Linked DNA regions of Homo sapiens: region 2 is linked to region 1. The links come from fine-mapping of genetic effects on gene expression. Tissue or cell type: lung. Region 1 holds a variant in brackets; the other region holds the start of a gene. All regions are shown on one strand. Distances are from middle to middle.

Region 1 (4,253 bases):
GGGGGAGAGAGGGAGTCTCAAGTCATGCTAGTCTGAAAATGTCATCTATTCTCTATTTCTTTGTTTGTGTGTGTGTGTGTGTATATACACTGTTATTACCTCTTTACTGTTTAAGAATCTATGGACAGAAAATGTGACTCCAATTAATTTTCATACCACTATCCTTCCCATTTCCTTATTTCTTTGTTGCCTTTCTCTCAGATCACTGGTGAATTCTTTGAACCCAGGTTCACTCTTCACTTCAAAAATTTCACCATCAGCTCAAAGCAAATATTTAACTTCTCTAGTCCCAACACAGAAGGTGATGGTGGAGGACTGAAGTCAATCATCAACTATCACAATGGTCAGCATTCAAAGAACTCTAAATACAAGCCTCAGAGTCAGTGACTCTCTAGGCTTTCTCAACAGCCTTTCAGGAGTTCCTATTACTCACATTTGAAAAGGCTTAGCCATTTATCACTATCAGTCCCATATTGCCATTAGTTCTCATCCTTGCCTCTATCTCCTAATGTTTATTTTGATTTTGCACAAAATTATATAGCCTGTTTGTCTTAAAATCCAAGCTATCATATGTATCAAACTTTTTTTAAACTCCATATACAGAGGAAAGTCCAAGAGATGTAAAGGGAAAAATGATTCACTATCTCATAATTTTACCAGTAACATCCATTAGCACGCCACCAGCTTCAGTAACAATAATGGCAGCTACTGCAATATCCCAGCAGTGAATTCCCATTTCATAAAATGCCTCTGCTCCTCCACTTGCCGCAATGCACATATTAGTAGCTGCTGTTCCAACACTCTGGATCCTCAAAAATAGTATTCAAAAATGGCAGATTGAAAAAATAACCTTTCAAGTAAGGTATTCCTCCTAACTTCAGTTTGAATGTTGATTGAGATAAGTTGAACCAATCTAGAGAATAAATGTAAAAAAAGATGGTATTTAATCTTAAAATAAAAATATATAAAATCCAGTTATCGTGATATACTATATAAATCCCAAAACTAATCCTCACAAAGCAATAATTTAATAAGATAAACATGAAAGCAATAATTTTGCAGAAAAAAAGCCCTAAAAATAATGCTATAATTCTACTATAACAGCATGCAAATATATTCATATTTTTTTAAACCCAAGGCAACCACAGCTTATTTTACACAGATACACACACACATGCACACATACACAATGCACAATAATCTCTAGGGAGCATAAAGTATCATGATATTGATCATTCCCAACTGGATGTGCATCATATCTAGACCTAAAGGGATTGCAACCCACCTGGGTTCTGCACAAACCTAGGCCTCTCTTGAAAGATTACTACAGGTTTTTCCTCTCATAGCACCTCTTCCTTGAAAATACAGCAAGGTAAGATGAATGTGTAAGATATAAGTAAGAATAAGTAAGATACTACTTGATAGCAATTATAGTAATAACTTATTCAGTAAAGAATCATCAGCCGGGCGTGGTGGCTCACACCTGTAATCCCAGCACTTTGGGAGGCCAAGGTGGGCAGATCACAAGGTCAGGAGACCGAGACCATCCTGGCTAACACGGTGAAACCCCATCTCTACTAAAAATATATATTAAAAAGAATTAGCCAGGCGTTGTTGCGGGC[A/G]CCTGTAGTCCCAGCTACTCAGGAGGCTGAGGCAGAAGAATGGCGTGAACCTGGGAGGCAGAGCTTGCAGTGAGCCAAGATCGAGCCACTACACTCCAGCCTGGGCAACAGAGCAAGACTCCATCTCAAAAAAAAAAATCATCAATAAATGTTAAAATTAATGGGTAAAAGTTTGATATTTTTGGTATCAAAGTATCTCTCCACAAGATATATAATAAGTACAGTGAGGAAAAAATAGCATTTTTACAATGATCTATCTACCATTACCAAGTAATCAAAGTTAATATCACCCATAATAGGACAAAAAGATACCATGTGCCTCCTGATATGATGCACTGAGAAGTACAGAACATTACTTCTGTGACATTCCTGCCAAAAATTCATAATCCAAATGTAATCATAAATAAACTAGACAAATTCAAATCAAGAGATAGACCACGAAATAATTGGCCTATACTTTTGAAAAATGTCAAGGTCATAAAAGATAAAGAAAGACCAAGCAAGTTATAAATTAAAGGAAACTGAAGAGAAATGAGAACTAAATGCAATCAATGTATGAGTCTGGATTGGACATTGGGTTAAAATTTTTTTCAAAATTTGAATAAAGTCTTTATATTAGATTATGTATCAATGTTAATTTCCTGACTTTTATAATTGTGCTGTGGCTGTGTTAGACAATGTTCCTTTTTATTAAAGAAATACACACTGAAATGTGTTTTTAGAAGAAAAAGATCATTATGTCTGCAAGTTAATTGCAAATGGTTTCTATTCAAACTCCTTTTGTGACTGTTTAAAGCTCTGGAAATAAAGCAGTGGGTTCTATTTACCAAGATCTTTCCCAGTTTATTTTTTTAAAAAGTAATGATAAATTGATTACAAATGTGGTATTTATTTTGTATTGTATTGTAAAAAATATTGCACCTAAGTACATCCTTCATCTCAAAGGGACTTTTTAAAAAAAGGATTAGAATGATATAATGTCTTTGATTTGGAATTTTTTCCTGCCTATGTTTTTGCTGCACATCTAATTTAAGAAAGAACTAGGAGGTGCAATAAATTTCCAAGATGTTTGTTTCCCAAATGCATGAAATCAAATTAGCTTTTGTGGCATTTTTTCAGTTATAAAGAAAGATGTGTTTCTCCCCTTTTCATATGAGATATGTGATAGCTGATATCTCATATTATAGAAAGCAAAGACCAAGATCTTCTACAAGTAATCCCTTAGTATTCTATTCAGAGAATCCTAGGCTAGCAGAACAACAGTGATAGCAACTAGTGGTGCTTCCATCACTTCTAATGCACATCATGGGATCTCAGGCAAGGAGTCTTGTAGTCAGCTAGAGCATATATTTTGTGAGCAAATATTACCAAAGAGATTACTTATATTACCAGGTAATTAAGGCTATGGTATAGATTCTACAATGTGCCTTCTGAATCCTATCTTAATCTGATCCTCCTATACAGCTAATAGGGTATATCATAAAAAAGCCTATGTTTGGGGTCACAAAGAGTTGAGTTTGTTCCATGCTCAGCTGCTTAAAAACCCTAATCTGGGCCAGGCATGGTGGCTTATGCCTGTAATCCCAGCACTTTGGGAGGCCAAGGAGAGTGGATCACCTGAGGTCAGGTGTTTGAGATCAGCCTGGCCAACATGGTGAAACCCTGTCTCTACTAAAAATACAAAATTAGCCTAGTGTGGTGGCACATGCCTGTAATCCCAGCTACTTGGGAGGCTGAGGCAGGAGAATTGCTTGAACCCAGGAGGTGGAGGTTGCAGTGAGCCGAGATCACACCACTGCACTCCAGCCTGAGCAACAAGAGTGAAACTCCATCACAAAAAACAAAAAAACAAATCTGGACCAAGTTTCTTCTTTGAGTTTTAGCTTTCTTGTCATCAAATAGGGATACCAATTTGCCTTAGATCACTGTTACAATAACTACAAATAATATTTGTAAAGCACCAAAAGAGTGCCTGCCATATAAAAGATACATAATAAAAAGTAGCTATGTTTATGACAAAATTATTCTCAAAAGATGATGCCAGAAAATATATACCAGGTACATTTCATCTAATTAAATTTTGAAAAATTAAAGGAAATTGAGCCACAATAATTGTTGTCTTAAAAATATTTGTTCCTAGTCAGGAACCTATTAGACTGTTTCTGCTTGTTTAAAGCATTCATTCAGATTATGACTCCCTTTAGTTTCATTGTTTTGTATAAGTAACTCTGAAATCACATTGCTAAACTAAAGAAGCAGCTGAATGCAAAAGATCTTAAATCAATGTCAGAACTTCTCCTTGGTAATATTTCCCTGGTTACACTTCTGAAAAAATCCTGAAGTAAAAATTAGTTTTTACTTTATCCAACAGCAAAATTAAAGGTTAAAATTGTAAACCTCTTGCAGCTCTTTTATGACTAACATAACCATTTTATAGCCCATGGTTACAGTCCTTGCTTCAAGACAGCACACTGTAGCAATAAGTTTATTGCCCTTCCCTCAAGGACATCATTCTGGGAGGTTCTGTAGCTATTTGACAGAGGCTCTCTCTCTTTTGCTTTACTCATTACTATATAGAACAAAGATGTATAGTATAAAATTAGTTTGTACATGGCCAAACTATATTTTTAA
Region 2 (4,253 bases), 79 kb after region 1:
AAGTATATTTAGATACTATGTGGAGTATATATACTACACATAAGTATATTTAGATACTATGTGGAGTATATATACTATACATAGTATCTATGTGTAGTATATATACTATACATAAGTATATTTAGATACTATGTATAGTATATATACTATACATAAGTATATTTAGATACTATGTATAGTATATATACTATACATAAGTATATTTAGATACTATGTATAGTATATATACTATACATAAGTATATTTAGATACTATATATACTATACGTAAGTATATTTAGATACTATATATAGTATATATACTATACATAAGTATATTTAGATATATATACTATAAATAAGTATATTTAGATACTATATATAGTATACATTAAGTATATTTAGATACTATATATAGTATATATACTATACATAAGTATATTTAGATACTATATATACTATACATAAGTATATTTAGATACTATATATACTATACATAAGTATATTTAGATACTATATATACTATACATAAGTATAGATACTATATATAGTATATATAGTATATATACTATACATAGTATATTTATGTACTATACATATAGTATATTTATATACTATATGTAAGTATATATGTAAGTATATTTATGTACTATATATAAGTATATATACCTAAGTATATTTAGGTACTATATATAAGTATGTATACCTAAGTATATTTCTGTACTATATATAAGTATATATACCTAAGTATATTTCTGTACTATATATAAGTATATATACGTAAGTATATTTCTGTACTATATATAAGTATATATACGTAAGTATATTTATGTACTATATATAAGTATACAGAAGTATATTTATGTACTATATATAAGTATATATACTATACATAAGTATATTTATGTACTATATATAAAGTATATAAGTACATTTTATATATATTTTTATATATAGTTATATATAATATATGAATAGTTATATATATATAAATCACAGTACATTTATTGATGGGCAGGGTCCGTAGTTTACTCACTTTCATTTTCCCAAAGCCATAAACACCTGAACTGTTTCCTGCTGTTTCTGTCCTGGTCACAGCCTTCCAGCGTAGGAGCCAGGCCACCTTCCTTTTTGCCACCTGTCCCAGCACCGCGACTGCGGGCAGCACAGGACCTGGGCGCTGCCCCATCACTTAGAGTGACTACCTGGGCCTGGGGATGCACCAAGTTTCTAGGAGCTTTTCGGAGTTGGGGACATAAAAAGGGGCAATTATTCCACAGAAGCCGCCACAGAGGTTAAGTGAGGTCGCGTGAGCGAACCGCTACTCCAATGCCGGAACTGTTCCCGGTCGCCCAGGGCAGCTCCGGATAACGCAGCAGGCAGGGGTCACCCAGAGGCTGCCTCCACCCTAGGCGCCGACCGCGCACGGCGCTCGCGCCCGCTCCTGAGGAGGGAAGGGGCCTCCCTGGAAACCCACAGCGCCCGCTGAACCCGGAGGGTGCGGTGAGGAAAATAACGGTCTCACCTTGAGTCGGAGGACGTCCGGCTAGCTCTGTGAACGGTGTTACCGCACTCGTCTCTTCCGGAGGTAGAGGGGCTACTCGCAACAGGAAGTTCCGCCCTTAAAAACTCCATTCCTGAGGGGGCGTGGTTGCTTTGCTGGGCCCCGCCCCGAGCTGCGCCCTGCGAGCCTCTGCCAGGCCGGGCCGGGTCCTGACCCGCGCTGGAGCATGGGATACTGCCTCTTCATTCTAGCTTCTGGTTCTTTTCTCCTGCTTGTCTTTTCATCTCTCAGTTTTTAAACATTACTTCTCTCTTTACTTTGCCTTTTTCTTCTTTCGTCCTCCATTCATTCACGGTTTCCCATTTAGCTTGCTTTCTTCTTTCTCCCATTTATTCTATAGTACTATTTTGACAAAACCCAGATTGCAGATATGATTCCGATTATGCAGCTTTTAGGTGCTAACCTAAAGCTGGTAAACCTATACTAGATTAAAAAAAAATAAACTGATAACCAGAACCAACTGCCCAATTCTTGATAATTTACTTACATACTATTTATTGAGGACTTACTATGCTTCAAGCAATTGTGTGGGGTTTTATTGTTTTGTTTTTTTGAGACGGAATTTCACTTTTGTCGCCCGGGCTGAAGTGCAATGGCGCGATCTCGGCTCACTGCAACGTCCGCCTCTTGGATTCAAGCGATTCTCATGCCTCAGCCTCCTGAGTAGCTGGGATTACAGACGCCTGCCACAACGCCCGGCTAATTTTTGTATCTTGTAGAGACGGGGTTTCACCATGTTGCTCAGGCTGGTCTCAAACTCCTGGACTCAAGTGATCCGCCTACCTCGGCCTCCCAAAGATTACAGGCATGAGCCACCACGCCTGGCCGAAATGTGTTTTTATATGCATTATTTTCCTTAAAGTTTTAACAGTTTCTTGAAAAAGGTATGATTAGCTTTGTCAGACAGATGAGGAAACTGAGGCTCAGAGTAGTTAAGTGATTTGTCCTCAGGTCACACAGCAAGAGCAGAGAGTGAAACACACTGAGTTCAAAGTTTTGGGGTTCAGAAAATGATACCCCACAATGAAGGCCTCAGAAGCAGCCTTAGAAGGAAAAATTTTCCTCTGACTCCTTTTGGTCTCCTGTCTCTGGTCCCACATTCTTCCCCAGACTAGTCATAGAAGCTAGAATTCCTCTTTCCCAAATCAGGTCCCAGAAATCAGGACCCCTTTTTTATAAAGCCAGCCATAAAACATAAAAATACTACTCTAGGCCAGGCAAGGTGGCTCACGCCTGTAATCCCACCACTTTGGGAGGCCAAGGCAGGCGGATCACGAGGTCAGGAGATCGAGACCGTCCTGGCTAACACGGTGAAGCCCCGTTTCTATTAAAAACACAAAAAAATTAGCCGGGTGTGGTGGCTGGCACCTGCAGTCCCAGCTACTCGGGAGGCTGAGGCAGGAGAATGGCATGAACCTGGGAGGTGGAGCTTCCAGTGAGTGGAGATCGCGCCACTGCACTCCAGCCTGGGCGACAGAGGGAGCCTCCGTCTCAAAAAAAAAATATATATATATAGAGAGAGAGATATAGATAGATAGATAGATAGATAGATAGATAGATAGATAGATAGATAGATAGATATTACTCTAGCATTCTCCCTGTGTTTCTATGTAAAATCTGACCACGAAGAAATTATATGACTCACCCTGTCTGAGTTTAGGTCATAAGACCCCCATTCCAAAGAGGGTCCTATGGAGAGAGGCCAAGAAGAATCTAAGCAGACAGGTCTTACTGGATTTCCCCAGTCTAATAGCATTAGGTTATACCCTCTTTGTCCAACCATATTCTACACAGCTGTCCATATGCTGTTGAAACTAAGCATAAAATGGACTGTCCCCTTATACCTTTGGGTCTTCATTCTGAAGGCTCCCAAGTCACATAAAACTATGATCAAATAAAATCCTTTTCTTCTATTTATCTGCCTTTTGTCAGTTGATTTTCACCAAACCTTCAGAGGACAAAAGGGAAGTTTTTTCTTTGGCCCTACAAAAGTTTACACACTGAGAATATATGGCACAATGAGATCACATTATATGAGGTACAAGGACTAGTTATGGTCTTAAAATGTTTCTTCTTCTTGAAAGAGTTGGCCAGGTGCAGTGGCTCATGCCTGTAATCCCATCACTTTGGGAGGCCAAGGCAGGCAGATCACCTGAGGTCAGAAGTTCAAGACCAGCCTGGTCAACATGGTGAAACTCTGTCTCTACTAAAAATACAAAAATTAGCCAGGCATGGTGGTGGGTGCCTGTAATCCCAGCTACGAGGGAGGCTGAGGCAGGAGAATCGTTTGAACCCCGGAGGTGGAGGTTGAAGTGAGCCGAGATAGCGCCATTGCACTCCAGCCTGGGTAACAAAAGTGAAACTCCATCTCAAAAAAGAAAGAAAGAAAGAAAGAAAGAAAGAGCGACATCGTGGTACATACACCATCATAGTGCAAAAAGCATTGCACAGATATAAGATGTCCTAGCTACAACTGGACCAGGAAAGTAAGTTAGTTATTTGGCTCTTTGCTTAGGAAGTTACTGTTTCTGTTTGTTTAATCAAAAGACAAAATGTCACCAATATATTTCAAATGAAATGTCTTAGAGATGAGTAATTTGGACTGGACTCAATTCTCACACCTCACAAGGACCAATAAACATCTTTAATCCAAAAAGAGTGATGCCTTAGGTATCCGGTTTGGATGTCTATCAAATGATACTTTATTTTCT

Evidence for each region. PIP is the estimated chance that this variant, and not a neighbour inherited with it, causes the effect.
Region 2: it holds the start of IMPA1, and the variant in region 1 is the best candidate, but not a certain one, in a credible set for the expression of IMPA1 in lung (TOPMed, PIP 0.56).

The regions. Positions count from the first base shown.
Region 1 is chr8:81,605,914-81,610,166 of GRCh38, forward strand. It overlaps the pseudogene IMPA1P1. Among named protein-coding and RNA genes, the nearest start is that of FABP12, 74 kb to the left of the region's middle. The variant A/G (reference allele first, on the strand shown) is at 1,623.
Region 2 is chr8:81,684,749-81,689,001 of GRCh38, forward strand. IMPA1 (inositol monophosphatase 1) reads right to left here and starts at 1,577. Exons shown (of 9, transcript NM_005536.4): 1 at 1,504-1,577. RefSeq lists an enhancer at 1,323-1,823.